Regions from separate parts of the Homo sapiens genome. Here all the other regions are linked to region 4. The links come from fine-mapping of genetic effects on gene expression. A gene starts in region 4. Each other region holds a variant in brackets. All regions are shown on one strand. Distances are from middle to middle. Region 1 holds the start of SIX5 (SIX homeobox 5). Region 2 overlaps NOVA2 (NOVA alternative splicing regulator 2). Region 3 overlaps GPR4 (G protein-coupled receptor 4). Region 4 holds the start of EML2 (EMAP like 2).

What was found. PIP is the estimated chance that this variant, and not a neighbour inherited with it, causes the effect.
Region 1: its variant is fine-mapped to the expression of EML2 in whole blood (TOPMed, PIP 0.98).
Region 2: its variant is fine-mapped to the expression of EML2 in whole blood (INTERVAL, PIP above 0.99).
Region 3: its variant is fine-mapped to the expression of EML2 in whole blood (INTERVAL, PIP above 0.99).

Annotation. Positions count from the first base shown.
Region 1 is chr19:45,765,979-45,773,978 of GRCh38, reverse strand. It overlaps SIX5 (SIX homeobox 5), which reads left to right and starts at 4,727. Exons shown (of 3, transcript NM_175875.5): 1 at 4,727-5,937; 2 at 6,824-7,629; 3 at 7,868-8,000. The coding sequence starts at 5,135. DMPK (DM1 protein kinase) reads left to right here. Exons shown (of 15, transcript NM_004409.5): 10 at 1,227-1,338; 11 at 2,051-2,208; 12 at 2,314-2,411; 13 at 2,583-2,629; 14 at 2,919-3,008; 15 at 3,339-4,262. The coding sequence ends at 3,491. DM1-AS (DM1 locus antisense RNA) reads right to left here and starts at 6,183. Exons shown (of 2, transcript NR_147193.1): 1 at 5,848-6,183; 2 at 2,096-2,489. RefSeq lists enhancers at 1,831-2,388, 3,388-3,467, 3,908-4,017, 4,178-4,257, 5,749-6,308 and 1 more and silencers at 2,838-3,347, 3,588-3,747, 4,272-4,456, 4,308-4,847, 5,208-5,427 and 1 more. The variant G/C (reference allele first, on the strand shown) is at 3,220.
Region 2 is chr19:45,934,717-45,942,716 of GRCh38, reverse strand. NOVA2 (NOVA alternative splicing regulator 2) reads left to right here. Exons shown (of 4, transcript NM_002516.4): 4 at 1,772-8,000. The coding sequence ends at 2,854. Among named protein-coding and RNA genes, the nearest start is that of NANOS2, 24 kb to the right of the region's middle. RefSeq lists a cis regulatory region at 2,895-2,994. The variant TTTTG/G (reference allele first, on the strand shown) is at 3,233.
Region 3 is chr19:45,591,409-45,599,408 of GRCh38, reverse strand. GPR4 (G protein-coupled receptor 4) reads left to right here. Exons shown (of 2, transcript NM_005282.3): 2 at 6,712-8,000. The coding sequence starts at 7,543. Among named protein-coding and RNA genes, the nearest start is that of GPR4, 6.8 kb to the left of the region's middle. RefSeq lists enhancers at 759-1,395, 1,396-2,033. The variant TTTTATTTA/A (reference allele first, on the strand shown) is at 4,089.
Region 4 is chr19:45,634,435-45,642,434 of GRCh38, reverse strand. It overlaps EML2 (EMAP like 2), which reads left to right and starts at 3,038. Exons shown (of 19, transcript NM_012155.4): 1 at 3,038-3,078; 2 at 3,562-3,590; 3 at 3,801-3,930; 4 at 7,964-8,000. The coding sequence starts at 3,059. It overlaps MIR330 (microRNA 330), which reads left to right and starts at 3,348; the gene lies at 3,348-3,441. It overlaps EML2-AS1 (EML2 antisense RNA 1), which reads right to left and starts at 941. Exons shown (of 2, transcript NR_130729.1): 1 at 669-941; 2 at 1-210. RefSeq lists enhancers at 475-534, 2,509-3,360, 3,830-4,124, 3,361-4,212 and silencers at 2,744-2,833, 2,854-3,133, 3,830-4,124.

The DNA of each region.
Region 1 (8,000 bases), 130 kb before region 4:
ATCTCAAAAAAAAAAAAAAAAAAGTACTAATTTACAGGCTGGGCATGGTGGCTCACGCTTGGAATCCCAGCACTTTGGGAGGCTGAAGTGGACGGATTGCTTCAGCCCAGGAGTTCAAGACCAGCCTGAGCAACATAATGAGACCCTGTCTCTACAAAAAATTGAAAAAATCGTGCCAGGCATGGTGGTCTGTGCCTGCAGTCCTAGCTACTCAGGAGTCTGAAGTAGGAGAATCACTTGAGCCTGGAGTTTGAGGCTTCAGTGAGCCATGATAGATTCCAGCCTAGGCAACAAAGTGAGACCTGGTCTCAACAAAAGTATTAATTACACAAATAATGCATTGCTTATCACAAGTAAATTAGAAAATACAGATAAGGAAAAGGAAGTTGATATCTCGTGAGCTCACCAGATGGCAGTGGTCCCTGGCTCACACGTGTACTGACACATGTTTAAATAGTGGAGAACAGGTGTTTTTTTGGTTTGTTTTTTTCCCCTTCCTCATGCTACTTTGTCTAAGAGAACAGTTGGTTTTCTAGTCAGCTTTTATTACTGGACAACATTACACATACTATACCTTATCATTAATGAACTCCAGCTTGATTCTGAACCGCTGCGGGGCCTGAACGGTGGGTCAGGATTGAACCCATCCTCTATTAGAACCCAGGCGCATGTCCAGGATAGCTAGGTCCTGAGCCGTGTTCCCACAGGAGGGACTGCTGGGTTGGAGGGGACAGCCACTTCATACCCCAGGGAGGAGCTGTCCCCTTCCCACAGCTGAGTGGGGTGTGCTGACCTCAAGTTGCCATCTTGGGGTCCCATGCCCAGTCTTAGGACCACATCTGTGGAGGTGGCCAGAGCCAAGCAGTCTCCCCATCAGGTCGGCCTCCCTGTCCTGAGGCCCTGAGAAGAGGGGTCTGCAGCGGTCACATGTCAAGGGAGGAGATGAGCTGACCCTAGAACATGGGGGTCTGGACCCCAAGTCCCTGCAGAAGGTTTAGAAAGAGCAGCTCCCAGGGGCCCAAGGCCAGGAGAGGGGCAGGGCTTTTCCTAAGCAGAGGAGGGGCTATTGGCCTACCTGGGACTCTGTTCTCTTCGCTCTGCTGCTCCCCTTCCTCAAATCAGGAGGTCTTGGAAGCAGCTGCCCCTACCCACAGGCCAGAAGTTCTGGTTCTCCACCAGAGAATCAGCATTCTGTCTCCCTCCCCACTCCCTCCTCCTCTCCCCAGGGACAGTGAGGTCCCAGGCCCCACACCCATGGAACTGGAGGCCGAGCAGCTGCTTGAGCCACACGTGCAAGCGCCCAGCCTGGAGCCCTCGGTGTCCCCACAGGATGAAACAGTAAGTTGGTGGAGGGGAGGGGGTCCGTCAGGGACAATTGGGAGAGAAAAGGTGAGGGCTTCCCGGGTGGCGTGCACTGTAGAGCCCTCTAGGGACTTCCTGAACAGAAGCAGACAGAAACCACGGAGAGACGAGGTTACTTCAGACATGGGACGGTCTCTGTAGTTACAGTGGGGCATTAAGTAAGGGTGTGTGTGTTGCTGGGGATCTGAGAAGTCGATCTTTGAGCTGAGCGCTGGTGAAGGAGAAACAAGCCATGGAAGGAAAGGTGCCAAGTGGTCAGGCGAGAGCCTCCAGGGCAAAGGCCTTGGGCAGGTGGGAATCCTGATTTGTTCCTGAAAGGTAGTTTGGCTGAATCATTCCTGAGAAGGCTGGAGAGGCCAGCAGGAAACAAAACCCAGCAAGGCCTTTTGTCGTGAGGGCATTAGGGAGCTGGAGGGATTTTGAGCAGCAGAGGGACATAGGTTGTGTTAGTGTTTGAGCACCAGCCCTCTGGTCCCTGTGTAGATTTAGAGGACCAGACTCAGGGATGGGGCTGAGGGAGGTAGGGAAGGGAGGGGGCTTGGATCATTGCAGGAGCTATGGGGATTCCAGAAATGTTGAGGGGACGGAGGAGTAGGGGATAAACAAGGATTCCTAGCCTGGAACCAGTGCCCAAGTCCTGAGTCTTCCAGGAGCCACAGGCAGCCTTAAGCCTGGTCCCCATACACAGGCTGAAGTGGCAGTTCCAGCGGCTGTCCCTGCGGCAGAGGCTGAGGCCGAGGTGACGCTGCGGGAGCTCCAGGAAGCCCTGGAGGAGGAGGTGCTCACCCGGCAGAGCCTGAGCCGGGAGATGGAGGCCATCCGCACGGACAACCAGAACTTCGCCAGGTCGGGATCGGGGCCGGGGCCGGGGCCGGGATGCGGGCCGGTGGCAACCCTTGGCATCCCCTCTCGTCCGGCCCGGACGGACTCACCGTCCTTACCTCCCCACAGTCAACTACGCGAGGCAGAGGCTCGGAACCGGGACCTAGAGGCACACGTCCGGCAGTTGCAGGAGCGGATGGAGTTGCTGCAGGCAGAGGGAGCCACAGGTGAGTCCCTCATGTGTCCCCTTCCCCGGAGGACCGGGAGGAGGTGGGCCGTCTGCTCCGCGGGGCGTGTATAGACACCTGGAGGAGGGAAGGGACCCACGCTGGGGCACGCCGCGCCACCGCCCTCCTTCGCCCCTCCACGCGCCCTATGCCTCTTTCTTCTCCTTCCAGCTGTCACGGGGGTCCCCAGTCCCCGGGCCACGGATCCACCTTCCCATGTAAGACCCCTCTCTTTCCCCTGCCTCAGACCTGCTGCCCATTCTGCAGATCCCCTCCCTGGCTCCTGGTCTCCCCGTCCAGATATAGGGCTCACCCTACGTCTTTGCGACTTTAGAGGGCAGAAGCCCTTTATTCAGCCCCAGATCTCCCTCCGTTCAGGCCTCACCAGATTCCCTCCGGGATCTCCCTAGATAACCTCCCCAACCTCGATTCCCCTCGCTGTCTCTCGCCCCACCGCTGAGGGCTGGGCTGGGCTCCGATCGGGTCACCTGTCCCTTCTCTCTCCAGCTAGATGGCCCCCCGGCCGTGGCTGTGGGCCAGTGCCCGCTGGTGGGGCCAGGCCCCATGCACCGCCGCCACCTGCTGCTCCCTGCCAGGGTACGTCCGGCTGCCCACGCCCCCCTCCGCCGTCGCGCCCCGCGCTCCACCCGCCCCTTGCCACCCGCTTAGCTGCGCATTTGCGGGGCTGGGCCCACGGCAGGAGGGCGGATCTTCGGGCAGCCAATCAACACAGGCCGCTAGGAAGCAGCCAATGACGAGTTCGGACGGGATTCGAGGCGTGCGAGTGGACTAACAACAGCTGTAGGCT[G/C]TTGGGGCGGGGGCGGGGCGCAGGGAAGAGTGCGGGCCCACCTATGGGCGTAGGCGGGGCGAGTCCCAGGAGCCAATCAGAGGCCCATGCCGGGTGTTGACCTCGCCCTCTCCCCGCAGGTCCCTAGGCCTGGCCTATCGGAGGCGCTTTCCCTGCTCCTGTTCGCCGTTGTTCTGTCTCGTGCCGCCGCCCTGGGCTGCATTGGGTTGGTGGCCCACGCCGGCCAACTCACCGCAGTCTGGCGCCGCCCAGGAGCCGCCCGCGCTCCCTGAACCCTAGAACTGTCTTCGACTCCGGGGCCCCGTTGGAAGACTGAGTGCCCGGGGCACGGCACAGAAGCCGCGCCCACCGCCTGCCAGTTCACAACCGCTCCGAGCGTGGGTCTCCGCCCAGCTCCAGTCCTGTGATCCGGGCCCGCCCCCTAGCGGCCGGGGAGGGAGGGGCCGGGTCCGCGGCCGGCGAACGGGGCTCGAAGGGTCCTTGTAGCCGGGAATGCTGCTGCTGCTGCTGCTGCTGCTGCTGCTGCTGCTGCTGCTGCTGCTGCTGCTGCTGCTGGGGGGATCACAGACCATTTCTTTCTTTCGGCCAGGCTGAGGCCCTGACGTGGATGGGCAAACTGCAGGCCTGGGAAGGCAGCAAGCCGGGCCGTCCGTGTTCCATCCTCCACGCACCCCCACCTATCGTTGGTTCGCAAAGTGCAAAGCTTTCTTGTGCATGACGCCCTGCTCTGGGGAGCGTCTGGCGCGATCTCTGCCTGCTTACTCGGGAAATTTGCTTTTGCCAAACCCGCTTTTTCGGGGATCCCGCGCCCCCCTCCTCACTTGCGCTGCTCTCGGAGCCCCAGCCGGCTCCGCCCGCTTCGGCGGTTTGGATATTTATTGACCTCGTCCTCCGACTCGCTGACAGGCTACAGGACCCCCAACAACCCCAATCCACGTTTTGGATGCACTGAGACCCCGACATTCCTCGGTATTTATTGTCTGTCCCCACCTAGGACCCCCACCCCCGACCCTCGCGAATAAAAGGCCCTCCATCTGCCCAAAGCTCTGGACTCCACAGTGTCCGCGGTTTGCGTTGTGGGCCGGAGGCTCCGCAGCGGGCCAATCCGGAGGCGTGTGGAGGCGGCCGAAGGTCTGGGAGGAGCTAGCGGGATGCGAAGCGGCCGAATCAGGGTTGGGGGAGGAAAAGCCACGGGGCGGGGCTTTGGCGTCCGGCCAATAGGAGGGCGAGCGGGCCACCCGGAGGCACCGCCCCCGCCCAGCTGTGGCCCAGCTGTGCCACCGAGCGTCGAGAAGAGGGGGCTGGGCTGGCAGCGCGCGCGGCCATCCTCCTTCCACTGCGCCTGCGCACGCCACGCGCATCCGCTCCTGGGACGCAAGCTCGAGAAAAGTTGCTGCAAACTTTCTAGCCCGTTCCCCGCCCCTCCTCCCGGCCAGACCCGCCCCCCCTGCGGAGCCGGGAATTCCGAGGGGCGGAGCGCAGGCCGAGATGGGGAATGTGGGGGCCTGCAGAGGACCCTGGAGACGGAGGCGTGCAGAAGCTCAGTCTCGGGGCGGAGGCTTCGCGCCCTTAGTCCTCCTGGACGGCCCGTTACCTTCTGCGTTGTCCCGATGGGGAAACTGAGGCCCTGAGCCAGAAGCACACGCTGGGGGGAGGCAGAAAGCGCGGCCAGAGGCGGAGGGAAAACAAAGGGAGAATCACAGACAGACGGGAGGGGGACGGACACACACAAGGGGACAGAGACCCGAGTGGAGAGCTGGATCTCGCCTTCCCGGCGTGGGGCGCAGGGTCGGCCAGAAAGAAGATCGAGAAGAGCGGGGAGTGGGGGCGAAAAGGGGGGACAGGTGGGGGAGGAGGCTGGGGAAAGCCCGAGGGAGGAAGAGAGGGAGGGAGGAACTTCCCAAAGTTGCAAAACATGGCTACCTTGCCTGCGGAGCCGAGCGCGGGGCCGGCGGCTGGGGGGGAGGCGGTGGCGGCGGCGGCGGCGACCGAAGAGGAGGAGGAGGAAGCGCGCCAGCTCTTGCAGACTTTGCAGGCGGCCGAGGGTGAGGCGGCGGCGGCGGCCGGGGCCGGGGCGGGCGCAGCGGCTGCGGGAGCTGAGGGCCCGGGATCCCCGGGCGTCCCCGGGTCGCCCCCCGAGGCCGCTTCCGAACCGCCCACGGGCCTCCGCTTCTCGCCCGAGCAGGTGGCGTGCGTCTGCGAGGCGCTGCTCCAGGCGGGCCACGCCGGCCGCTTGAGCCGCTTCCTGGGCGCACTGCCCCCGGCCGAGCGCCTACGTGGCAGCGACCCGGTGTTGCGCGCGCGGGCCCTGGTGGCCTTCCAGCGGGGCGAGTACGCCGAGCTCTACCGGCTACTCGAGAGCCGCCCCTTCCCCGCCGCCCACCACGCCTTCCTGCAGGACCTCTACCTGCGCGCGCGCTACCATGAGGCCGAGCGGGCCCGCGGCCGCGCGCTTGGCGCAGTGGACAAGTATCGACTGCGCAAGAAGTTCCCGCTGCCCAAGACCATCTGGGACGGCGAGGAGACAGTCTACTGCTTCAAGGAGCGCTCCCGCGCAGCGCTCAAGGCCTGCTACCGCGGCAACCGCTACCCCACGCCGGACGAGAAGCGCCGCCTGGCCACACTCACCGGCCTGTCGCTCACGCAGGTCAGCAACTGGTTCAAGAACCGGCGACAGCGCGACCGGACCGGGGCCGGAGGCGGCGCGCCCTGCAAGAGGTGAGGGGCCTCGGGCGGCGCAAGTCCAGCTCTCCCGGGGACATCCCGTCCACCAGCCCTCTTCCCCCGTGCCCACTGCTGGGGCCGGCGCGCCGAGGTCCTCGGACATCTCCCGGGACCAGCTCACAATCTCAGGCGCCCGCGGGGCGCGGGGACTAAGTGTGGACGGGACAGGCACCCGCCCGGGCCCTCTCCCCGCACGCGTCTCCTCTTCCAGCGGCTCCATTCCGAGCTCCTTCCCAAATCCCATCGGTGTTGGGGAATCACACTGCGGGGGGCACTAGAGGGACTGAGGAAAAAGGACAGGGCCTGTGGCCACTCCACTCCGCGTAGGGGCTGCCTCCCAGCCCCCTTTCTTCACTGACCGTTACTCTTACCCACCCGCCCCCACACTCCCTCCGGGCCCGGACGGCGTGGTCCGTCTTCTGCCTTTGTTGTGAAACGTGAACCTTTCCCAGCTCCGGTTTCCCTGTAACCCAAACCCTTCTCCTCCCACCCTGAGCGCCGGCCTCTCCCTTCTCTGACGCCCCGCGGGGAGGGCACCGGGAACTGGGCTGGCGGCTGCTGCTCCCTCTCTCCAGGCCACTCGCCCGCTTTCCGCCCAACCAAGGAACTTTTAGGGCAACCTGGGAGCTCAGCCTCTGGGGACCCGAGGCCGAGGTGGGGGAGAGCAAGGGCCTCTTCCCTCCCCAGCGCTTCTCTGCAGTGGTGTCCACGCAGGGCTTGCAAAAGGCCCTGGAGTTTGGAGTGGTCTCAGAGAGGCGTCATAACCCCTGGAATGATCCACCGAAACTTGGGCCAGGGAAAGGTGGGGGAGCAGCTGGCTGGCTATGCGGGAGGCCCCACAGGCTAAGGGACCCCAGCTGACAGCCATTTCTCCGGCCAGCGAGTCTGATGGGAATCCCACGACTGAGGACGAGTCCAGCCGAAGTCCTGAGGACCTGGAGAGAGGGGCGGCCCCAGTGTCCGCCGAGGCCGCTGCCCAGGGCTCCATATTCCTGGCAGGGACCGGCCCTCCCGCGCCTTGCCCGGCTTCCTCCTCCATCCTGGTGAACGGGAGCTTCCTGGCAGCCAGCGGCTCCCCAGCAGTGCTCCTCAACGGGGGCCCCGTCATCATCAACGGCCTGGCCCTGGGCGAGGCCTCCAGCCTGGGCCCGCTGCTGCTCACTGGGGGCGGGGGTGCCCCTCCACCGCAGCCCAGCCCTCAGGGGGCCAGCGAGACCAAGACCTCTCTGGTCCTGGACCCTCAGACAGGGGAGGTGCGGCTGGAGGAGGCTCAGTCGGAGGCCCCTGAGACCAAAGGGGCCCAGGTGGCTGCTCCGGGACCAGCCCTTGGAGAGGAGGTCCTGGGGCCCCTGGCCCAAGTGGTGCCTGGCCCCCCGACGGCTGCCACCTTTCCTCTGCCCCCGGGGCCAGTGCCTGCTGTGGCTGCCCCACAAGTGGTACCGCTCTCCCCACCCCCGGGGTATCCCACGGGCCTGAGCCCCACCTCCCCACTATTGAACCTGCCCCAGGTAGTACCCACCTCACAGGTGGTGACCCTGCCCCAGGCTGTGGGGCCCCTGCAGCTGTTGGCAGCCGGGCCAGGCAGCCCTGTGAAGGTGGCAGCTGCAGCAGGCCCTGCCAATGTGCACCTCATCAACTCCGGGGTGGGCGTGACTGCCCTGCAGCTGCCTTCGGCCACTGCCCCAGGTACCCCCATCTCCCTCCCTCAGGCCTAGGTGAGAGCCGGGGAGGGGTGCAGTCATCTCGGAGAGGGAGGGGCTGTCCCTGGGCTCCTGGAGGGCATCTCATCCCTGGCAAGTCCCAGTGCCCCAAGGCCCACCACAAGGCTCCCTCCGCCCGCCCTCCAGCTGCACAGTCTCCACTTCTCTCTGGCTTGGCCTGCTCTCCTGGCTCTCACCTGCGCTCGGTCCCTCTCTCCCCACAGGAAACTTCCTCCTGGCCAACCCTGTGTCTGGCAGCCCCATCGTGACGGGTGTGGCCCTGCAGCAGGGCAAGATCATCCTCACCGCCACCTTCCCCACCAGCATGCTCGTCTCCCAGGTCCTGCCGCCAGCCCC
Region 2 (8,000 bases), 300 kb before region 4:
AAGGAGAGGTCACCAGATTCAAATGACCAACTTCTTCATCCTGGAGAGTTCCCGTCCCAGGAATTAGAAGGAGATTGAAATCTAGATTCTTGGGTTCCCGATCCATTGTGTGACATCCAAGACATCCACTTACGTCTGCCTTCTCAGACAAAAGCCTTCATGTTATCTTCATTTTACAGACAGGACAACTAGATTAGTCTGCTAGGGCTGCCATAACAAAGTGCCAGAGACTGGGTGGTCTAAACAACAGGTATTTATATCTCATGATTCTGGAGGCCAGAAGTCCAAGATCAAGGTGTCAGCAGGGTTGGTTTCTTCTGAGGCCTCTCTCCTAGACCTTCTTCTCCCTGTGTCTTCACACAGTCTTCCCTCTGTGTGCATCTGTGTCCTAATCTCCTCTGCTTATAAGGACACCAGTCAGTAAATTAGGGCCCGCCCTAATGACCCCATTTTACCTTAATTATCTCTTTAAAGACCCTCTCTCCAAATATAGTCAAATTCTAAAGTACTGGAAGTTACGCCTTCAACATATGAATTTGAAGGGGACACAGTGTCAGCCCATAACAACAGAGAGTTCAACGAGAAGACCATGTCTAGGGGAGCACAATGGATCAGGAACCCAAGAGCCTAGATTTCAGCTCCGTCACTAACTGGGGAACCTTAGGACAAGTCCTTTCACCTCTTGGGCCTCAAGAGGCTCATCTGTAAAGTAAGGCTTAATGAAGGCTTTTCCAGGGCTGGAAGTCAGAGTACGTAACACTAGAAGGCATGGGTGGGCCATTGTGCAAGCTTGGAGTGAGATCCTGGAGGGCCCCATTGGATTAGCCATTAAGCTTTTAGATGCTGGACGCAGAGGAAGTACTAAGAGTCCCAGGTACATGGGACAGGGTGGTTGAGGGGCTACTGAGGGGACCTCAAATACTGGCTATTCATTAACCAACCATTGTGGATATATTTCAATTTTTTTAAAAAAAATTTTAATGTTAGAGGCAAGATCTCGCTATGTTGCCCAGGCTGGTCTCAAACTCCTGGGCTCAAGTTATCCTCCCACCTCAGCCTGTCAAAGTGCTGGGATTACAGGCCTGAGCCATTGCACCTGACCTGAAATATTTCAATATTTTTAACAACCAGTTGGACCATACTGGTGCATATCAAAAGGCCATGCTGGGCCTGATTTTGGATGCTGGAGAGGAGGGGTAGGGAATGACCTGGGGCGTCTCAGTCTCCAGCCACCGTAAAGACCCTCCCTTCGCCAGTTTGGTGGCTCAAATCTGTAATTCCAACACTTTAGGAGGCTAAGGCAGGAGATCCCTTGAGGCCAAGAGTTCAAGACCAGCCTGGGCAACATCGCAAGGCCCCATCTCTACTAATATAGATAGACAAAATTATATATATATATATATATATTATTTTATTTTATTTTGAGACAGGGTCTCCCTCTGTCACTCAGGCTGGAGTGCAATTTGGCACGAGCTCAGCTCACTGCATCCTCCCTCTCCTGGGTTCAAGCGATTCTCCTGCCTCAGCCTCCTGAGTAGCTGGGATTACAGGCATGTGCCAACACACAGCTGGCTAATTTTTGGATTTTTACTAGAGACGGAGTTTCACCATGTTGGCCAGGCTAGTCTGGAACTCCTGACCTCAAGTAATCTGCCTGCCTCAGCCCCCCAAAGTGCTGGGATTACAGGCGACAGCCACCGTGCCCAGCCTAATTTAATTTAATTTTTTAAAAAAATAAAATTAAAGACCCTCCCTTTTGCTCCCCACGCAGGCCAAGCTGATCGTCCCCAACAGCACGGCGGGCCTGATCATCGGCAAGGGAGGCGCCACGGTGAAAGCCGTGATGGAACAGTCAGGAGCATGGGTGCAGCTGTCCCAGAAGCCGGAGGGCATCAACCTGCAGGAGCGCGTGGTGACGGTCAGCGGCGAGCCCGAGCAGGTGCACAAGGCCGTGAGCGCCATCGTGCAGAAGGTACAAGAAGACCCCCAGAGCAGCAGCTGCCTCAACATCAGCTACGCCAACGTGGCAGGCCCCGTGGCCAACTCCAACCCCACCGGCTCTCCGTACGCCAGCCCCGCGGATGTGCTGCCAGCCGCGGCCGCAGCGTCGGCCGCCGCCGCCTCCGGCCTGCTGGGCCCCGCCGGGCTGGCTGGCGTGGGGGCCTTTCCCGCCGCGCTGCCCGCCTTCTCAGGCACCGACCTGCTGGCCATCAGCACGGCGCTTAACACGCTGGCAAGTTACGGCTACAACACCAACTCCCTGGGCCTGGGCCTCAACTCGGCCGCAGCTTCCGGCGTCCTGGCCGCCGTGGCCGCCGGGGCCAACCCAGCAGCCGCCGCCGCCGCCAACCTCCTGGCATCCTACGCGGGCGAGGCCGGGGCCGGGCCAGCCGGAGGGGCCGCCCCGCCGCCGCCCCCGCCTCCCGGAGCCCTGGGGTCCTTTGCGTTGGCCGCAGCCGCCAACGGCTACCTCGGGGCCGGGGCGGGCGGCGGGGCGGGCGGAGGGGGCGGCCCGCTGGTGGCCGCTGCAGCCGCGGCCGGGGCGGCCGGGGGCTTCCTGACGGCGGAGAAGCTGGCGGCTGAGAGTGCCAAGGAGCTGGTGGAGATTGCGGTGCCTGAGAACCTGGTGGGAGCCATCCTGGGGAAGGGGGGCAAGACGTTGGTGGAGTACCAGGAGCTGACGGGCGCTCGCATCCAGATCTCCAAGAAGGGCGAGTTCCTGCCAGGCACGCGGAACCGGCGGGTCACCATCACGGGCAGCCCCGCGGCCACGCAAGCCGCTCAATACCTCATCAGTCAGCGGGTCACCTACGAGCAGGGAGTGAGGGCCTCAAACCCCCAGAAAGTGGGATGAGGCCTGTGGTGTGTGCTCCCACCCTTTTCTCTCCTCCCATCTCCTCCTCTTCCCTCTCCTCCTCCCCCCCAACTCCTGACCTCAGCTTGGTGTAGTCCTGCTCCTCTTGGGATGGGGCTGGGGTAGGCCCGACTGCACCCTCCCCTTCTGGTAGTCATAGGCAGGATTGAGTGACGGTTGGGAAGGGGGCTCAGAAGCCCCCTCCCCAGCCCGGAACTGACCCCTCCTTCCTCCCTCCCTGTGCTTGGCTGGGCCTGACCCTTCCTGTCCCAGGGCCCAGGTCTGTGTGATATCTGTATATATTGCATTTTGTTGATTTTAATAGAAAACAAAGCGTTATTTTCTCTTTCTTTCCCTCCTTTTTTTTTTTTTTTTTTT[TTTTG/G]GTAAGGATTTTTTCCCCCTTTATAAGTTTTTGTTTCCATATGGGAGGAGGGGAGGGAGCCTCTGGGTCACCCAGAATGAGGGGCCTTCCCAAAACACAACACCCCACCTCTCTGCTTTCAGTTCTAGATCTGAGGGAAGCCATGGGAGTAGAGGTAGCAGAGGCGTCTGAGCTGAAATGGGGCATTTGGAGCAAGGACCCCAGAGTTCCCAGATCTTCTCAGCTACTCTCCTCCCACTGGAGCTGTCCCTCCTAGGTGGGAATGTTCACTCTTTTGTTGTCAGGTTGTATGGGGGGGCAGGGACAGTGCTGCTGGGAAGGATGCCAGCTCTGGGATTGGGCCAGTCCTGTGGGCAAGACTTGCAAGAGGCTGGATCAACTTGGTGTGGTATCTCTGATGGCTTAGAGTAATGGCAATGAGGGTCTCTGTTGTGATGTCACTGAGTACTTTCTGGGGTGCTTCTGGGCACCCCTTATGATGTCACAGGAAGCAGTTCCTCAGAGGTTACTTCCTGTGAACATAAGGGAGCAGGTACTTCCTGTGATGTCTCAATGAGTTCTTCCTTGAAGGTCACTTTGGTGATATCATGGGAAGGTGTACTTCCGGTGATGCCTAGAGGTCACGTCCTGTGATGTCATTAGGCTGAAGCATGTACTTCCTGTATTGGACAGTGACCAGTCTCTGACCTGCCTTCTCCCTCCACACCCTTCTTTGGTGGGTGTTGGCCTGGGGGTCTTCCTAGGAAGAGAATAAGGCACGGGACTTGGATCCAATCTGGAGGACTCTAACGGAAAAAAACCAATATTGTCAGGGTCATCTCCATTCAAACACGTCAAGTCTGCGAACTCGCCCTGGAGGGAGGGGTGGGAGATGGACCTAGTGCAAACTACTGTTAAAGACCTCCCTTCCCACCCCTGCCTTTTGTGTGCATGCCTGTGTCTGCGTGGCTTTGTTTCATTGAATCGGGTGAGCCAAGTGTGTGGTGGCTCTGTCAGGCCAGTATGGCCAGGTGTAGAGTTCAGTGAGCCATAGTAGGGTCCCTTGGGCCAGAATGCTTCGTGTGGTCTGATAGGTTAGATTGGTTTGGTGGCTTCCAGCAAGCTGGCATACTTCGGTGATGTCTGATGGATCAGAATGTTTTGGTGTGCTCACCAGGGGCTCTGGAGAACTAGAATGTTCTGATGGAGTCTGACAAGCCAGGCGGCCTTGAGAGTTGGTTTAGGAGTGGCTCCCTGAGTGCTGTGGCTGTGGTCAGCTCTAAGGACCTGTTGGCAGACTGAGATTTCAGGGCCTGACAACCATGTAGACTAGGATAGCTGAGACCTCCCTCTACCCCCACCCATCTCCCTCTCTTCCTTGGAGACCACCTCCACTTTCTCCAACCCAAAGCAGGGCGCCCAGTGCCCTGGTTCCATCATCAGCATCTCTGGGGGAGGGGCGCCCCATGCCCACCCTCTCCCCCATTTGTCCGCCTCCTAGGTCTTCCAAACCCTTTTCTTCTCTATGACTTTGGGGGAAATCCAGCCTCCTTGTCTCTCTCCTAAAAAAGGAGGGAAGAAAAGCCACAGAGACAATTCCTGCCCCTAAAGCCTAGGAGATCCCTCTCCCTTGCTAGAGAGCCACCCCCAAATCAAAATGTGAAAATCCCTAGAAAGCAATAGCCTTCGAGGTACCTTGCACTGAATTTCCCACCCCAGCCCTTCCACCCGATGGGAGGCTGTAACTTGGGCACTGGGGTGACTTTTTCCATGCCCTTGTCATCTCCAGGGTGGGAGGCAGGCCCCACTTCCCCTCCCCTATCCCCCACTTCCCATTGTTGTTGCCCCACCCCTAATCTCCAGACTGAACCCAGATGGAGATCTGAGTGCCAAAACAATTCTTGATGTAACTTTGTACATATCTTCTACTACCGTTGGGGGCTCTTGGGGTTAGAGGTGGGGGCGGCTCTGTGGGCCATTGCTCCCCTCCACCTCTCAAAAGACCTTACAGTATTTCACAGTATCTCTACCCGCACGCGAGTATTACAGTATCTAGCTGGAATATCCCCCTACAGCCCCCCAGGACCCTATGAGGAAGGGAAGGAGCCAGGGAGAGTGAAGTAAGGTCTGGGACTGGGGAGGTGGGATCTGAATGAACTCATTTGCATATCATTTGCATCCTCCGCTTGGCAGCCGCTTTCTACAAACTCATTCACTGGAGTCTGGGTCCCAATCAGCCGGGTCCAGGACTCCTCTCACACAGACACATCTCCGGAGGCTGGGCCTCCTGAAAAGTGTTTGCTTGGGGTGTCTGTGTAACAACCCCTCCCTATTCATATTTCTTGGGGACCCCCTACCCAGCCAGCCAGGGTGATCTGAAAGGTATACTTTGCTAGCTCAGTGAGCTAGTTCACTCACCATGTTGGTGAGCAGAGAGCCACACCTTTCCCCATTTTACCTTGGGAAACTCACTCCACCATCTTTGCCATCTCTTGAAAGTCCCTTCTGCAATCTGACCTCAATCTTTTGTGCTGCAGTTTGTCCAGAGGGGACACAGATGTGGGGTCAGGGATGAGGATTATTGAAAAACCCATCATCTCTTTTTTTTTCCCCGTCTCCCTATTAGCCAATCCGATCTCAGAGTCTCTGAGTGGCCTCCTTGCACCCTTCTCTTCAGCACCCAGTAGGTGCTTAATAAGTGTTTGCTGCATTGGATTATCTCCCTATTCCTTCTCATTTGCCCTCTAGCTTCCCATACCTTCTCCAAGTGTCTTCCTCCCTTTCTTTGTCTGGCTCCCTATGACTTTCTATTTTTTTTTCCTCCGTGTGGTTCCCATTGTTTTCTGTCCTGTCTCTATCTTAGTCTTTGTCTGTCTTCCTCCTTTCCTCAAATGTCTCAACTCTCTCTCCCCAATTTCCCCATTTAAAAAAAAAAAAAAGTGCCAAACTTCCTTGGAACTGAGCCGCTCTGGGGGGAGAGGACCTTGGATAGAGGGGAGGAAATGGGACCATTTCTCTTTGAGGAGGTCCCTAAGAGGCATTGCAAAAGTGTGGACATGGAGCTAAATTGGGTCCCCCTTCCACAGCCCTCCCACCCTGAGTTTTTCTTAGAATCTTTGTAAGAAAAAAAAAAAAAGACAGAAAAAAGCTCTCCTTTTCAACTTACCCCTATCCTTTTGGGTCCCCCCAAATTCCACCAGCCAAGGAGAATCCCACTTGCCAACTTCCTGGCAAATCTATGGAAACTGGGGAGGAGGAGACAAGCTCAACTCCTCCTCTGCTAGCCCAAGGGGCGGTACCAACTGGATTCAAGAGAAGGACCTCAAAGCTCCTATGAGAAGAGGGGGTTCGATGTGCCAAATTAACCTCCTTCATCCCCCATCTCAGGGGGCTCTGAGCCAACCTGCCCAGCCACCTTCTTCTGCCCTGTCCCAGCCACCTCTACATGGGCAAGGAGGCTTCACTGCAATAATTAGTAGGGGTGGTGATCAGAAGACAATGATTTTGCCGTTTCTATCTGCCCTAACGCCTACCCTGGACTTGTAGTTGGGAATTATGGGTATCCCAAGTGGATGTTGATAAAAGCCGACCTATAGATGGTTGGGGACCTCTACTTGGAACACCAGGGTGTCGCTTATCTCCGAGGTGTATTTCCTCTCCCCTCTGGACCACCAAATCCTTCAATATCCCCTCATTCTGTTTCTCCTCCCTGTTCCTCCATCCCACATCCTCCTTCTTACTTTGTTTTGATTGGTGGCCAATTGTTTGGAAAATGAGAGGAGTCCCCCTGAATGGATGATTGCTGTTTCAGGACCGGGATTAGAGGCTGTGATAGACTGTGCAGTGGCAAAAGTATTAACAAGAGTGGCGATGAGGATGGCAGTTGGGGCGTCCAGGCTGCTGACTGAGTGCCCGCCTGTCGGTACAGCCAGCCAGGCCTTCGACAAGCACCTGCCTGGAAACCGGGCTCGCTGTCCTGAAAGCCTGGACTGGATGTCACGATGGGGAGAACGGGATCGCGATACCCAAGCTGGGGCACAGGCGAGCCAGGGACACTGGTTTACTGGGGTGATAACACCCAGCCCTGCTATCGCGATCCGTTTGCACTGTGGTCAGCTGTCTCCACGCCGTGGTTGGAGAGGGCTTGTCTCCGGGCGCCACTGCTGGTGTGTATGGTCTGTCTTAGTGTCCCCTGCAAGTTGCATTGGAGATTGCTGGGTGGCAGGGAGGGAAATGGGAAGAGAATCTGTGGGGTCATGGTGGTGAAGGCTGCTGGTTTTTAATCCCTTCTCAACCAGTCCAGGACACTTGTCTCCCAGAGATAACTGGGGGGGGACTGCCTAACCCCCCCTCCCCCACCCCTTTCCCTACCCCACCTCTCCCCCCAAAACCACCAACCTCTCATCTTCTAAGTGACTCCATCACCACCGGCCACCGGGACCTGCGGCCTCATTGCTCCAGCCCGCCCCACTCGACCGTCAGACTCGCTCATCGAACTCTTTTTGATTAACCCTTTCTGTGTTCATCCCACGGAAAACTGTGTGTCCGGCAGGGGGGAGGGGGGAGGCTAGGGGCAGTTGCTACCTTTCCTCCATCTCCTCCCACCACCCATGCCTCCCCACCCGCACCCCATCCCATGCCCCACCCCCATCCCTCACCCCTAGGGTCTGCCCCACCCTGGGGATTGACATCCTCTATAAATATCTATGCTATTTGGCTTTGTCCCTTTAAAAGGCGGGTCCAGGGGCGTGGCCTCCCTCAAATGGAGCGCTCACTCTGACCCCC
Region 3 (8,000 bases), 43 kb after region 4:
ACAGAGGAGGAAAAGGGGGAGGTGAGATAGCCTGGTGGCATCGGGGACAAGGCTGGTGAGTGAGCCCAGGGGTGCTGGGGGATGCGGGGGGCTGTAGCACTTCTCCCTCTTGTCCTCAAAATCCTCCAAGTTTTTCAGCTTTGCTGGATTTTGGGGTGGCTGGCAGGATGCGGCAGCCGAGGCTGCTAAAGTTGGGGGGGCCAGGTCTTCCTAGTCTTTCCTGTCCCCCCACCATCTCTCCATCCTTGGGTATATTTCTCTTCCCCCCGACTCTCTGGAAGGGGCCAGCAGGGACCCAAGAAGTGGGGGCCTGTGGGACAGACAGGGGGAGCTTCTTGTGGATGTGAGATTTGGGGGTTTACCCCCTCAACAGAGCCTAAGGGGCAGAACTTAGATCCCAACCAGAGAGGGTCCTGGAAGGGGAACGGGGTTATGGGGATCAGGTGATGGAAGGTCGCTTGCTTTCTTTGTGGGGAGAAGGTCGTATCTTCTAGTAGGTTCTCAGAGGGGCCAGAGACGCTCAGAAAGACTTGAGAAAAATTACAGAAGTTCAGAGAGTGAAGAGAAAAACCTCAGGGGAAGGGAAGCTGTTTAGTTAACAGCGACAGGAGGTTTGCCCAGTCTTGAGACATCAAGTGACTTAGACAACTGCCTTGCTGCTGCGGGCCTCGGTTTCCCCATCTGTACCAGGAAGGGGTCAGAAATAGCCTCACACTCCCAGCTGCCACACATACGTCGGCTGCACTGTGGCGTTCTAAGAGTCTGACGTTCCATGCTGACTTTTGGGGTTTCCACGTTGGGCAGATCTCACGTGGGGAAGAAGAGAGGGCTGTCTGGGCACCCCTCCCCCCCATGTCCAGCATCCGCAAGATGCCAGCAGGTTGGGGAGGAGGGGTGGGAGGGAGGAGGGGTGAGAGCTGGACCGGTTCCCCCTTGAGGAAATTAGCAATGGGAAGTGTATTTCCTCCTCTGGCTGCCGGAAGTGTCTCCTGCCCGGGTACCCGAGTTAGGTCAGCAGAGCCCTGGGGGTCGATAGAAAGTGGGGCAAAGGGGACTTCTAGCCCTCGGTGGGTGTCTCCTGCCATGAAGAACCGGTTTATTTCTTGTCTCAGCCCCCTAGTCCCCGTGGAATAATAATAATCGTTCAAATACTGCATGTTACGGAGCTGATATCGCATTCTAGCAAGGACGTTCCGGTCTGTGATGTGATGACTATAAAGCCTGTGCCCCCTTTTACAGAAGGGAGAAACTGAGGCTCCTGGAGACCTAATTCTCTAAATGTCACAGGAGGAAGGGAGAGACTAGGGGCAGAGAGATGGGGAGAGAGAGGGCAGAGGAGAGGGGAGGGAGGTTATTTTGAGTGACTTGGTCTGGGTGGGAGGTTTCAAGTGGAAGGGAGGGACTGGATCACACTGTTCCAGCCTGGAGTACGCCCCCACCCATCCCATCTCCACAGGACCCACAAGCTTCTGCCCAAGAGTCTGGGGTGGGGGAGGCAGCTCTGCCGCTGAGGACCCCACAGGGGGCAGGACTTACTGAGCACGACTCAGCCCTGACCTTTCAAAGTCAATTAAGAAGCGGATAGATCTTGCCCTTTCCAGCTCTCCCCTGACCACCTCTTCCCCTGGGAATGGACTCCTCTCCCTCCCTTCCCCCTCCTCCCCATGCCCTTGTTTGAGCCTGGGGTGGGGTGGGGCAGCCTCATGGGCAGAGAGTATGTTTTTACTCCATGCCTCTGGCCTCTGCAAAGCTTCTGGAATGGTTTTTGCCATTGGCAAATGGCTCTGTGCTCCCTGACCATGACCTTGGTAATTTATTGAGCACCTACTGTATGCTGGGCCTGTCCTGGATGCTGGGGATACAGCAGTCAACAAGGCACACAAAGTCTCTGCCCTCCTGGACAACCTATTCTAGGCAGACAGACACAAACAAAACAGGGTGATGTGAGGAGAGGGTCCTGGGGCAGGGGAGAGTCGGGGACTGAATGGAGAGGGACTCCCGAGGAAGTGAAGGAGGGAACGGAGCTACTCAGACTATCTGAAGGAAGAGCAGTGGCTCACATCTGTAATCCCAGCACTTTGAGAGGCCAAGGTGGGTGGATCACTGGAGAACAGGAGTTCGAGACCAACCTGGCCAACATGGTAAAACCCCATCTCTACTAAAAATACAAAAATTAGCTGGGCATGGTGGTGCACACCTGTAATCCCAACTACTCAGGAAGCCAAGGCAGGAGACTCACTTGAACCCAGGTGGCGGAGGTTTCAGTGAGCCGAGATCGTGCCACTGCACTCCAGCCTGGGCGACAGAGTAAGATTCTGTCTCCAAAAAAAAAAAAGAGCATTCCAGACTGAGAGTATGGTAAGTGTGCAAAGGTTTGAGGCTGGAAAGAAGGTCACTCACTGGCCTTGAGACTGCTGAGGCAGGAAGGAGAGGTGAGTGAGATTGGCTAGGCTGCCCCAGCAGGTCAGACAGAACCTTGTGACTCCGGATGAGGAGTCTGGATTTTACCGCAAGTCCATTCAGAAGCCATTGGAGGGTTTCAAGCAGGGAAGTAACAAGAACTAGGCTGCATGTGGTGGCTCATGCCTGTAATCCCAGCACTTTGGGAGGCCAAGGCAGGAAGATCTTTTGAGCCCAGGAGTTGGAGACCGGCCTGGGCAACATGGGGAAACCCCATCTCCACAAAAAATAGAACGATTAGCCAGGTGTGGTGGCACACACCTGTAGTCCCAGCCACTTACGAGGCTGAGGTGGGAGGATGGCTTGAGCCCATGAGGTCAAGACTGCAGTGAGTCAAGATTGCACTACTGCATGACAGAGTGAGACCCTGTCTCAAAAAAAAGAAAGAAAGAAAGAAAAGAAAAGAAGAAAAGAAAGAGCTGATTTTCATGATAGAAAGATCTTGCCCGGGCGCGGTGGCTCACGCCTGTAATCCCAGCACTTTGGGAGGCCAAGGTGGGTGGATCACCTGAGGTCAGGAGTTCGAGACCAGCCTCACCAACATGGAGAAACCCTGTCTCTACTAAAAATACAAAATTAGCTGAGCGTGGTGACGCATGCCTGTAATCCCAGCTACTCCAGAGGAAGAGGCAGGAGAATCACTTGAACCCGGGAGGTAGAGGTTGTGGTGAGCCAAGATTGGGACATTGCACTCCAGCCTAGGTGACAAGAGTGAAACTCTCCATCTCAAAAAAAAAAAAAAAAAGAAGAAAAGAAAAGAAAGATCTTTCTGGCTGCCATATGGGAAGTGATTTGAAGGAAGCCAGAGTAGCCCAGAAAAGCAATGGTGATGCTACTGCAATGATCCCAGCGAGTGATGACGCTGATGCTGACGCAGAGTGGACAGTGGCAGGCGTTTGAGAGAGACGCACACAGATTCAGGAAGCACTGGGGAGGTGGAGCCCAGAGGACTTTCCCATGGAAAGATGCTCTGGCATCTGGGAGGCTCCCATGGACCTCCTTCCGTCCCCTCTCTGGGGATTGGTTTCCTCATTTGTCAATAGACTCCACCTTAAACTCCATTTTTAACATGTTTTAAAAGTGCATCCTGGGGATTCTTCAGAGGTGGCCTCTCCACCCCCACCTTGTTTCACCAGAGCAGCTAGCAGCTCACCCTTTTCACTGTTTTAGATTGGTTTCTGGTTAAGATCTTGTTGGGGGAAAAAAAAAAAAAGCCAGGTTTCACGTCCAAAAGAACTAAACCAAAAGACCCCTGGATGGAATGGCTCCTGAAGCTGCCTGTGACTCTGGACTTGGCTCTGCTTCTCTGCGGGGTTGATGATAGTCAGGGGCTTGGTCCATGAATATCCTTTGCCCTGTGTATGCAGATCTTCCCAGAACAAAGTGGGTGACAGGCTCAAGGTTCTCACTCAGGAAAATTGCGGGGGAAAGGGCAGAGACAGTGAAGAGAGTGGTCCCTGAGGGAGGAGACTGCTGGCGCTAACCCCAGGGCTTCCCCATGCTCCCTGATCTTGATCTTGACCTTGACTGTTCCCAGCAGCTCCTGGCTCTCCCCTTTCCCTTACTCCTCTGCAGCTTTGGTTCCCAGTCCCCACTGGCAGCCCAGGGCCCTTTTCTGTCCAGTTATT[TTTTATTTA/A]TTTATTTATTTATTTATTTATTTATTTATTTATTTAGAGATGGAGTTCGCTCTTGTTGCCCAGGCTGTAGTGCAATGGCACCATCTCAGCTCACTGCAACCTCTGCCTCCCGGGTTCAAGCAATTCTCCCACCTCAGCCTCCCAAGTAGCTGGGATTACAGGCATGTGCCGCCACACCTAGCTTATTTTGTATTTTTAGTAGAGACAGGGCTTCTCCATGTTGGTCAGGCTGGTCTCGAACTCCCGACCTCAGGTGATCCTCCCGCCTTGGCCTCCCAAAGTGCTGGGATTACAGGCGTGAGCCACCGTGCCTGGACTTCTTTTTTTTGAGATGGAGTTCCTCTCTTGTCTCCCAGGCTGGAGTGCAGTGATGCTATCTCAGCTCACTGCAACCTCTGCCTCCTGGGCTCAAGCAATCCTCTCGCCTCAGCATCCCGAGTAGCTGGGATTACAGGTATGTGCCACCACGCCCAGCTAATTTTTGTATTTTTAGTAGAGACAGGGTTTCACCATGTTGGCCAGGCTGATCTTGAACTCCTGACCTCAGGCGATCCTCCCGCCTTGGCCTCCCAAAGTGCTGGGATTACAGGCATGAGCCACTGTGCCTGGCCTGTCCAGTTATTCTGGGGTGGAAACTGAAGCACAGGCTGGAGATGAGGACTGAGAGCAGAGATGGCTGCACTCTAGACATCAGGACCTTGGACAGGTCTTGGAACAGCTCTGTGCCTCAGTTTGTCAAAGAGAAAGAACAACTACTTTCCTCATAGGAGTCTTGAAAATTTCAAAGAAGTAATATCCATAAATTGGCCGGGCATGGTGGCTCACTCCTATAATCCTAGCATTTTGGGAGGCCAAGGTGGGAGGATCTCTTTTTTTTTTTTTTTTTTTTTGAGACGGAGTCTGGCTCTGTCACCCCCGCTGGAGTGCAATGGCGTGATCTCAGCTCACTGCAACCTTCGCCTCCCAGGTTCAAGCGATTATCCTGCCTCAGCCTCCTGAGTAGCTGGGACTACAGGTGTGCGCCACCATGCCCAGCTAATTTTTGTATTTTTAGTAGAGACAGGGTTTCACCATTTTGGCCAGGATGGTTTTGATCTCTTGACCTCATGATCCGCCCGCCTCAGCCTCCCAAAGTGCTGCGATTACAGGGAAGGATCTCTTGAGCTCAGGAGTTCAAGAGACCAGCCTGGGCAACACAGGAAGACCTGCATCTATTTTATATATATATATATATATATATATATATATTTTTTTTTTTTTTTTTTAAGCCAGGCATGGTGGTGCATGCCTGTGTTCCCAGCTACTTGGGAGGCTGAGGCAGGAGGATCACTGGAAGCCCAGGAGGTTGAGGCTGCTGTGAGCTGTGATCGTGCTACTGCATTCTAGTCTGGACAAAAGAGCAAGACCCTGTCTCAAAAAATAAATAAATAAAAAGAAATAATATGCATAAAAATGCCTGGAATGGGATCTGCTATGTAGTAGGGCTCAATTAACGTTTGCTGTTATTATCCTTGTTGACAAGAATGGGATTCTTGGGTAAGGAGTGGGAGGCTGGCCCCAGCCCTGGCCCTATTGCTGCCATGCTGTGCATCCTTAGGGAGGTGACTCAGCCTCTCTGGGCCCCTTCTCCCTGTCTGTGACATGATAGAGTTAGACTAGTCTGGCATTTCCTGAAGCATGATATGATACCTGTGCCAGTTTTACAGGAATTCTGCAGGAAAATGCTAAAATCTGAGTTGGGTCATTTTTTTCCCTTTTTCTCTTTCTTTCTTTCCTTTTTTTTTTCTTTTTTTTCTTTTCTTCTTTTTTTTTTGAGACAGAGTTTTACTCTTTTGCCCAGGCTGGAGTGCAGTGGTGCGATCTCAGCTCACTGCAACCTCCGCCTTTTGGTTTCAAGCAATTCTCCTGCCTCAGCCTCCTGTGTAGCTGGGATTACAGGCACGTGCCACCACATCCAGCTAATTTTTGTATTTTTAGTAGAGATGGGGTTTCACCATGTTGGCCAGGCTGTTCTTGAACTCCTGACCTCGTGATCTGCCTGCCTCGGCCTCCCAAAGTTCTGGGATTACAGGTGCGAGCCACCACACCCTACCTTTTTTTTTTTTTTTTTTTTTGAGACAGGGTCTCACTCTGTTGCCCAAGCTGGAGTGCCGTGGTGTGATTATAGCTCACTACAGCCTGAATCCCCTGGGATCAAGTGATCCTCCTACCTCAGCCTCCCCAGTAGCTGTGACTACAGGTATGTACCACCACACCTGGCTAATATTTTTATTTTTATTTTTTGTAGAGACTGGGTCTCACTGCATTGCCCAGGCTGGTCTTGAACTCCTAGGCTCAAGCGAACCTCCCACCTCGGCCTCCCAAAGTGTTGAGATTACAGGCATGAGCCACTGCACCCGGCCTGAGTTGGGTCTTTATTCTAATATCTGTCAGGGGAAAATATGCCTGACACCTCAAATCTGTGTTTTCAGAGAGTGGTTGCTTAGGATGGGGCTGAAGTAGGCATTGTTGGGGTGTCCAGTCTCTGCAGTTCACAGCAATTATGGTGAGGAGTGTGGGGAGAAGAAGGTTGGAGTGTCCATGACTCCCTCACTGCTGTCCTCTCTCCCAACAGGCACTGCAGTCAGCGGTGAACTGACTTCATCCCAATCCCTCAGCCCCCACCAGGACCAGTCTGGAGTCCCTCCCCTGCCCCCATTGAAATTTCCCTTCCGTCCCCAAACTTACCTCTGATCTAGACCTTACTCACCTCCTTCCTGTTTCCTAAGACTCCTTCCTGCCGTCCACAGACCGAGCCTTTTATCTTTGTCCACCCTGTGCCAGACACCTCCTTTTCCAGAACCTTCTCCTTACTGGTGACCTTACTTATCTCTGTTGCTTTCTGGGGTCCTAGGAAATGCCAGCACTCCCACCCACATTGCCTGAACTTTCCAACACTCCCTAACTGCGCTGTGTCCTATCTCAACACTTTCTCATGTATTTCTTGTGTCTTCTAGAACATTCCCCCGCCATTATTACTTCAATATGGCTACACATACTTCCTAATTGCCCTGCAAACCATCTCCTTCTCACCATTGCCCAGCGATGCTTTCGTCTCCTCCATAAACACTCCCGGAGACCAATTTTTGTGTCACCCCCATACTCCCTCGTTGACACACTGACTCCATACATAACCTCCTTGAAAAACCTCTTTATTAATCTCACCATCCTCCAGACTTCCCTCCTGTCATAATTCCATCCCTCCTCCAACTTTTCCCTCTCAAGCTCTGCCCTTCCCAGCCCAGCCCAGCCTACCCAACCTCATCTCTTCCCTGTAGACCACATCCCACCATGTTCCCCTGAGCCTCCAAGGAAGGGGCTCAGGGGGCCCCATGGCCTCCCGCTCCCTGTGGCCCCACAGCCCCCGTGGGCCAGGGGAAGCGCCCCAGAAGCCGAAGTGCCCACCATGGGCAACCACACGTGGGAGGGCTGCCACGTGGACTCGCGCGTGGACCACCTCTTTCCGCCATCCCTCTACATCTTTGTCATCGGCGTGGGGCTGCCCACCAACTGCCTGGCTCTGTGGGCGGCCTACCGCCAGGTGCAACAGCGCAACGAGCTGGGCGTCTACCTGATGAACCTCAGCATCGCCGACCTGCTGTACATCTGCACGCTGCCGCTGTGGGTGGACTACTTCCTGCACCACGACAACTGGATCCACGGCCCCGGGTCCTGCAAGCTCTTTGGGTTCATCTTCTACACCAATATCTACATCAGCATCGCCTTCCTGTGCTGCATCTCGGTGGACCGCTACCTGGCTGTGGCCCACCCACTCCGCTTCGCCCGCCTGCGCCGCGTCAAGACCGCCGTGGCCGTGAGCTCCGTGGTCTGGGCCACGGAGCTGGGCGCCAACTCGGCGCCCCT
Region 4 (8,000 bases):
TTAGACCCAGGAAGGCGGGAGGGACCCCTTGGGCACTGGAGCTCCTGGGTGGCCCTGCAGCCGGCACTCCCCCGTCTTCCAGATGACAATTTGTCGGGCACGAGCGGTATGGAAGTGGACGACCGCGTGTCGGCGCTGGAGCAGCGGCTGCAGTTACAGGAAGACGAGCTGGCGGTCCTAAAGGCGGCGCTGGCGGATGCTCTGCGTCGCCTGCGGGCATGCGAAGAACAGGGAGCGGCGCTACGCGCGCGGGGCACCCCCAAGGGCCGGGCGCCTCCGCGCTTAGGCACCACTGCCTCGGGTATCCCCGTTAGACTGGAGGGGTGGGATGGGGAGGACCGGGGCCTGGTCCTTATACTCACCCTCTTCTGTCCCCTAACCCCATCCCTCCAGTGTGTCAGCTCTTGAAAGGCCTTCCCACCAGGACGCCCCTTAATGGCTCGGGACCCCCGCGGCGCGTGGGTGGCTATGCCACGTCCCCATCCTCTCCCAAGAAGGAGGCGACCTCCGGGCGCAGGTAAGGCACAAGGCCGGGACCCCCAGCCTCTTCCAAGACCTCGTGGGAGACAGAGGTGGTTTGTTTGCCTGAGCTCCAGCAGCAGAGGGTGCAGGGAGAATCTCGCTTGCTCACGGCACTCGCCTGCTGGCCTAGAAGGCTCTGCCCCCACCTGTGTGCTCTCTTTTAGCAGTGTCCGCCGCTACTTGTCACCAGAGCGCCTCGCCTCGGTGCGCCGTGAGGACCCCCGCAGCCGGACCACATCCTCCAGCAGCAACTGTAGCGCCAAAAAGGAAGGGTAAGGACTGGGGCGGCGTCAAGCCGCAGAAAGAGATAGGGAGGAAATGGTCGAGAAATGTAGTCATGCCCCAGGCCACGAGGTCGTAACCTAGAGTGGGGCCAGCTAGTTCAAAAGCGGGGACGGTGCCAGAGCCTTGGAGGGACCAATCTTGAGGTGGCACGGTAACAGTGGAAGGTCTGGGAGGGCGGAGTCAATATTGAGGGGCGTGGCCAGAGTTTTTAGAAGCTGGACGGTCAGGTCTACTGGGTGAGGAAGTCAGGGAGGAGCTTGGCTTATGGGCGTGGTTATTAAGGTACAGGAGAGGCCCCGTTGAGTTTCAGGGATGAAGTCAAGGCAGCAGCCACAGAGTTTCTACAAGGAAAGAGGGAGTCTGAGGAATTTAAGGGTGCAGCCACAGTGTTCGCCTGGGCGAAATTAAAATCTGGGGTACGGAGTAACAGAGGCTGAGACCAGGTGGAGGCATTCCAGATTCCAGAAGCTTTGACATCAAAATCGGGGGGCACTGCCAGGTTGAAAAGGGCGTGGCTTAAAGGTTGGGCGGGGCCGTAGGGGCGTGGTCAAATGCCAAGAGGTGCAGCCAACTTGGAGGCCTCGAAGGTATTCACATAAGGAATACGTGAAAATGGACGTAATCAGAATGCCTGGCGGGCCGGAGAAGGAGCGTTGGCGGGAGGTAGCAGTCAATTCTCAAGCAACTGAGTCAACTCAGGGACAGGGTTAGAAGGGAGGCTCAGAATGACAGGCGTGGTCAACTCCAGAGGCGGGGCCATACTGAAGATCTGGACAGAGTCAAAAACTAAGGCTATATAATTCTAGCAGTTTGGGAGGCGGAGGCGGGAATCATCGCTTGAGCTCAGGAGTTCGAGACCAGGCTGGGCAAAATAGCGAGCCCTCGTCTTTACTAAAAATGAAAATAAATTAGGCCTGGCGCGGTGGCTCACGCCTGTAATCCCAGCACTTCGGGAGGCCTAGGCGGGTGGATCACAAGGTCAAGAGATCGAGACCATCCTGGCCAACATGGTGAAACCCCCTGTCTATTAATAATACAAAAATGGGCGTGGTGGCGCGTGCCTGTAGTCCCAGCTACTCGGGAGGCTGAGGCAGGAGAATCACTTCAACCCGGGAGGCGGAGGTTGCAGTGAGCTGAGATCGCGCCACTGCACTCCAGCCTGCTGACAGAGCAAGACTCCGTTAAACAAACAAACAAAAAACAAAAAACAAAAAACAAAAAAAAAAAGAGAGAGAAAGAAAATAGCCGGGCGTGCTGGCCTTCGCTTGTAGACCCAGCTACTTGGGAGGCTGCGGCAGGAGGCTCACTTAAGCCTAGGAAATTCGAGGTTTCAGTGAGCCATGATCACGCCATTGCACTCCAGTTTGGTCGACAGAGCCACACCCTGTATCAAAAACAAAACAAAACAAAAATCACCCTAAGGCTGGAGTTATGGTGCAGTGGGCGTGGTCAGCGCTAGGAGGCCACGCAAGGGCAAGACCAAGGTCAAAAGCTGCACATTTCAACTCTGCTCAAACATAGCAAACACAAATACAGCGTTGTGTATACTCCAGGCACTTCCCAATAATTAACCAATTTCACCCTCGCAACTACCCCCGGGAGGTGTGAGTACTCTTATTTATTTATTTATTTTGAGACGGAGTCTTGTTCTCGTTGCCCAGGCTGGAGTGCAATGACACAATCTCAGCTCACTGTAACCTCTGCCTCCCGAGTTCGAATGATTTTCCTGCCTCAGCCTCCCAAGTAGCTGGGATTACAGGCGCCAGCCACCACGCCAGGCTAAGTTTTGTATTTTTAGTAGAGACGGGGTTTCACCACGTTGGCCAGGCTGGTCTTGAACTCCTGACCTCAGGTGATCTGCCCGCCTCGGCCTCCCAAAGTGCTGGGATTACAGGCATGAGCCACCGCGCCCGGCCGGGTACTCTTATTATCCCCATTTTTTAAATGAGGAAACCGAGGCAGAGGTTGGACGACCTGTGTACACTGCTAGGAATTAGCAGAACTGGGGTTTTAACTCAAGCAGGCGCGCTCCCGAGTCCATGTTCTCAACCACTCTCCCCCACCCACCCCGAAAGAACCTGGGATCGGGAGTCCACAGCCCGGGATGTGTGACCCGGTGGGACCCTCCGGCTCCAGGGGTGGCTGTGGAGGGCGGGGCAGGGGCGCGGCGGCCCGGGCGCCTCCCAGGGCCGGAAGCGGCAGAGCCGGTCCCGGCTCCACCCCCGGCCCCGAAGCTCCGCCACCCGCCGCCATGAGTAGCTTTGGAGCTGGGTGAGACCCTTTCGCAGACCACCCCCCATCTCCTCTCCGCGCTCCCGGGGCTTAGATCTCAGGTTTCACCCAACCCCTGGGACCCAGACCGGCGTGGGGACACGCCCCTTCCCTTAAACTCTCCCCGTTTCTCCCTCTGCTTGACGTTTGGTGTGCTGGGGGAACTGCGGGTGGGGGGCGCTGGGGAGCACCTTGCTGATTAGGAGGGAAGGGTCCTTGGTGACTCCCTTCTTCCAGGATCGCGTCCCTGCCACTTCGTGCTGTGTGATCTTTGGCGATCACTGCCTCTCTGGGCCTGTGTCTTAGGCTCTGCAAGATCAACCGAGCAAAGCACACGGCCTGCAGAGAGGCAGCGCTCTGCCCCTTACTCGGCCCCGTTTTCATCGGAGACCTCCGGGGAGCGGTGGGGGTGGAGGAATGGTTTCTCCCCTTTTCTGAACTGAATACTAAGACCCTTTTTTTTTCTTTGTCCTTTCCTGACAGCAAAACCAAAGAAGTTATCTTCAGTGTGGGTGAGTGGGGAGATGGGGAAGGGCTCGGTGGAAGCTTGCTTGTTGGGGTGACAGGCTGGAGCCAGAGGTCAGGAGTCTTGGCTACTGGGTCTTTGCCTCTCTGGCCTCAGTTTCCCTGCCTTTAAAAAAATAAATAAATAAAGCTGGAAGAGGAGAGGGAATAGGGATGGGGCTGGTGTCAGTGCCTGACCTCTGGGGGTGTCCTGGCAGAGGATGGCTCCGTGAAAATGTTCCTGAGGGGCCGCCCTGTGCCCATGATGATCCCAGACGAGCTGGCACCCACCTACAGCCTGGACACACGCTCGGAGCTGCCTTCTTGCCGGCTCAAGCTGGAGTGGGTGTATCCTTTTGCTGGAATCTCCTTGGTGCTCCCATCCCCCCAGGAGGAAATAGAAAGGCGGTCAAGGCAGCTCAGGCCTGTAATCTCAGCACTTTGGGAGGATCGTTTGAGGCCAAGAGTTTGAGACCTGCCTGGGCAACACACAAAACAAGCACAGCACGTTCAAGGGCTATGTGGCCAGAGTGGGATTGGTGCATTTGAGCAAAAAGAGTTGGGAATGGCTGGAAGCCCGGGCTCTGGAGTCTGACAGAGATGGGTTCAAACCCCAGTCCAGCCCGTACCTGGCCGTGTGACCCTGGAAAAGTCGTCTTGACTCTGAAAAATGAATTTTATGATCTCAGGTCCATAGACCTGTGAAATAATGTGTAAAGGTACTGAGCTCATAGTATGTGCCCCATGCACAGGGACTGATAAAACACTAACTCAGCACATTGGGAGGCCGAGGTGGGTGGATCACTTGAACCCAGGAGTTTGAAACCAGCCTGAGCAACATAGCAAGACCTCGTCTTTACAGGAAATAAAATAGCAGGCCGGGCGCGGTGGCTCATGCCTGTAATCTGAGCACTTTGGGAGGCCGAGGTGGGCAGATCACCTGAGGTCAGGAGTTTGAGACCAGCCTGACCAATATGATGAAATCCTGTCTCTACTAAAAATACAAAAATTAGCCGAGTGTGGTGGCATGTGCCTGTAAACCTAGCTACTCGGGAGACTGAGACAGGAGAATCGCTTGAACCCAGGAGGCAGAGGCTGCAGTGAGCCGAGATTGCCCCACTGCTTTCCGGCCTGGGCCACAAGAGTGAAACTCCGTCTCAAAAAAAAAAAAAAAAAAAAAAAAAAGAAAAGAAAAAGAAAAAAAAAATAGCCAGCCATGGTGGCATGCTCCTGTGGTTCCCAGCTACTCTGGAGGCTGAGGTGGGAGCATCACTTGAGCCTGGGAGGTCGAGGTTGCAGTGAGCCATGATTGTGCTATTGCACTCCAGCCTGGGCGACAGAGCGAGACTCCTTTCTCAAAAAAAAAAAAAAAAAAAAAAAAATCCAAAATAATAACTCAAGCACTTACTATCTGACAGACACTGTTGTAAGTTATTCCAGGTATGAATTTATTTTTTTACAACTAGTGGCCTCCAAGAGCTCTGAGGCCTACAGTTTGGAAATTATTATACCTCCTTTCCAGATAAGGAAACTGAGGTTATAGGTAGGAGACAACAATCCTGATTCTGGGACCCAAACTTTTTCCTAAAATCCTATTGAGCTTGGAGTCCACACCCCAGGAACCCGGTCCTTGTCTGCTTCTCTCTGGGCCTTGGTTTCCTCTTTGGAGGAGCCAGGGTGGTTGGTGAAATGGCCTGGCCTTCTGGGTGCCCAGAGCCTTCTCGAGGCAGCTGGAAATATCCCCTGGAATCTGTCCCAAATGTCCTGCCAGTAGGGCTTGATAAGCATCTGATGAGAGGTGGCTGAGACTGCAAAAGTGAGGACCTCAGATTGCTCCCCTTTGCAGTGACTGCAGGTCAGAGCAGTTTCATGGGGTCAGGATATATGTATATTGACAATCATTCAGATATTTTCTTGTTTTTGAGACACCCAGGCTAGAGTGCAGTGGCACGATCTTGGCTCACTGCAACCTCCACCTCCTGGGTTCAAGCCATTCTTCTGCCTCGGCCACTACAGTAGCTGGGTGGCATGGGCCACCATGCCTGGCTAATTTTTTTGTGTGTTTTTTAGTAGAGACAGGGTTTCGCCATGTTGGCCAGGCTGGTCTTGGACTCCTGACCTCAAGTGATCCACCTGCCTCGGCCTCCCAAAGTGCTGAGATTACAGGCGTGAGCCACCGTGCTTGGCCCATTCAAGATATTTTCTGAACATCTGAGACATAGGGCTGGGGACCCAGTGCTGACCATGACAGCATCTGCCTGCCCTCCTGGGGCATACAGTCTAGCATGGGAACAGACTCATTGAGAGTGACAACCCAGAGTGTGCAAGACTGGGATGGGGAATCCACAGGGACAGGGCTGACCCAGCCTGGAGTCATGGAGGGCTTCCTGGAGGAGGAGATACAGAAATGAAAAAAACAAAACAAACAAACAAAAAAAACAGCCCAATCTCAGCCACCATGGAACTCACAGTCTTATTGGGGAATATGAGCAGTTAACAAATAAACCAGATAACTATCAGCTTGGGCAACAAAGCGAGATCCCATCTCTACAGAAAATTTCTTTTTAATTAGCCAGGCAGGCTGGGTGCATTGGCTCATGCCTGTAATCCCAGCACTTTAGGAGGCCAAGACAAGTGGACTGCTTTAGCCCAGGAATTTGAGACCAGCCTGGGCAGCATGGCGAGACTGCATCTTTACCAAAAATATACAAAAAATTTGCTGGGCATGGTGGTGCATGCCTGTAGTCTCAGCTATTTGGGAAGCGGAGGCAGGAGGATCACTTAAGCCCAGGAGATTGAGGCTGCCTCTTCTGTCATTTATAAGGACACTTGTGATCGGATTTAGGGGCTACTCTGATAATCCAGGATGATCTCATCTTGAGATCTATAATTATATCTGCAAAGACCCATTTTCCTTGTAAGGTCACATTTGCAAGTTGTGGGGATTAAGAAACAGACATAGCCCGGGCGCGGTGGCTCATGCCTATAATCCCAGCACTTTGGGAGGCCGAGGTGGGCAGATCACCTGAGGTTGGGAGTTCAAGACCAGCGTGACCAACATGGAGAAACCCTTTCTCTACTAAAAATACAAAATTAGCCAGGCATGGTGGCGCATGCCTATAATCCCAGCTACTCAGGAGGCTGAGGCAGAAGAATCCCTTGAACCCGGGAGGTGGAGGTTGCCGTGAGCTGAGATCACACCATTGCACTCCAGCCTGGGCAACAAGAGCGAAACTCCATCTCAAAAAAAAAAAAAAAAAAAAAAAAAAGGAAACAGACATTCATTTTTTTTTGGAGTGGGAGGGGACCATCAGCCCACTACAGGGGTGAGAGTGGAAACAGAAAAACCTCATTCCAATGACCTTGTTGAGTCTGGTCCTCAGCCAGTGTGTGTGATGCAAAATACATTCCTCGGCTGGGCGCCAGCGGCTCAAACCTCTAATCCCAGCACTTTGGGAGACCAAGGTGGGTGGATCACCTGAGGTCAGGAGTTGGAGACCACCCTGACCAATATGGTGAAACCCCATCTCTACTAAAAATACAAAAATTAGCCTGGCATGATGGCATCTGCCTGTAGTCCCAGCTACTTGGGAGGCTGAGACAGGAAAATGGCTTGAACCCAGGAGGCGGAGGTTGCAGTGAGCTGGGATCATGCCACTGCACTCCAGCCTGGGTGACAGACTCTGTCTTAAAAAAACAAAACAGGCCGCGCGTGGTGGCTCACGCCTGTAATCCCAGCACTTTGGGAGGCTGAGGCGGGCGGATCATGAGGTCAGGAGATTGAGACCATCCTGGCCAACATGGTGAAATCCCATCTCTATTAAAAATACAAAAATTAGCTGGGTGTGGTGGCGTGTGTCTGTAATCCCAGATACTCAGGAGGCTGAGGCAGGGGAATCGTTTGAACCAGGGAGTCGGAGGTTGCAGTGAGCTGAGATTGCACCACTGCACTGCTGCCTGGAGACAGAGCGAGACTGCGTCTCAAAAAAAAGAAAAAATAAATAGGCTGGGTGCCGTGGCTCCCAGCACTTTGGGAGGGCGAGGCGGGTGGATCACAAGGTCAGGAGATCGAGACCATCCTGGCTAACATGGTGATACCCCGTCTCTACTAAAAATACAAAAAATAAGCCGGGCATGGTGGCGGGCGCCTGTAGTCCCAGCTACTCAGGAGGCTGAGGCAGGAGAATGGCATGAACCCAGGAGGCGGAGCTTGCAGTGAGCTGAGATCACGCCACTGCACTCCAGCCTGGGCGACAGAGTGAGACTCCATCTCAAAAAAATAAATAAATAAAAAAATTAAAAATAAATAAATAAATAAAAACAAAACAAACAAACAACAACAACAAAACACATTCCTTAACCAGCCCCTGGGTGGCTCCAGCTATGGCTACCGTGGCCGAGACTGCCGGGCCAACCTT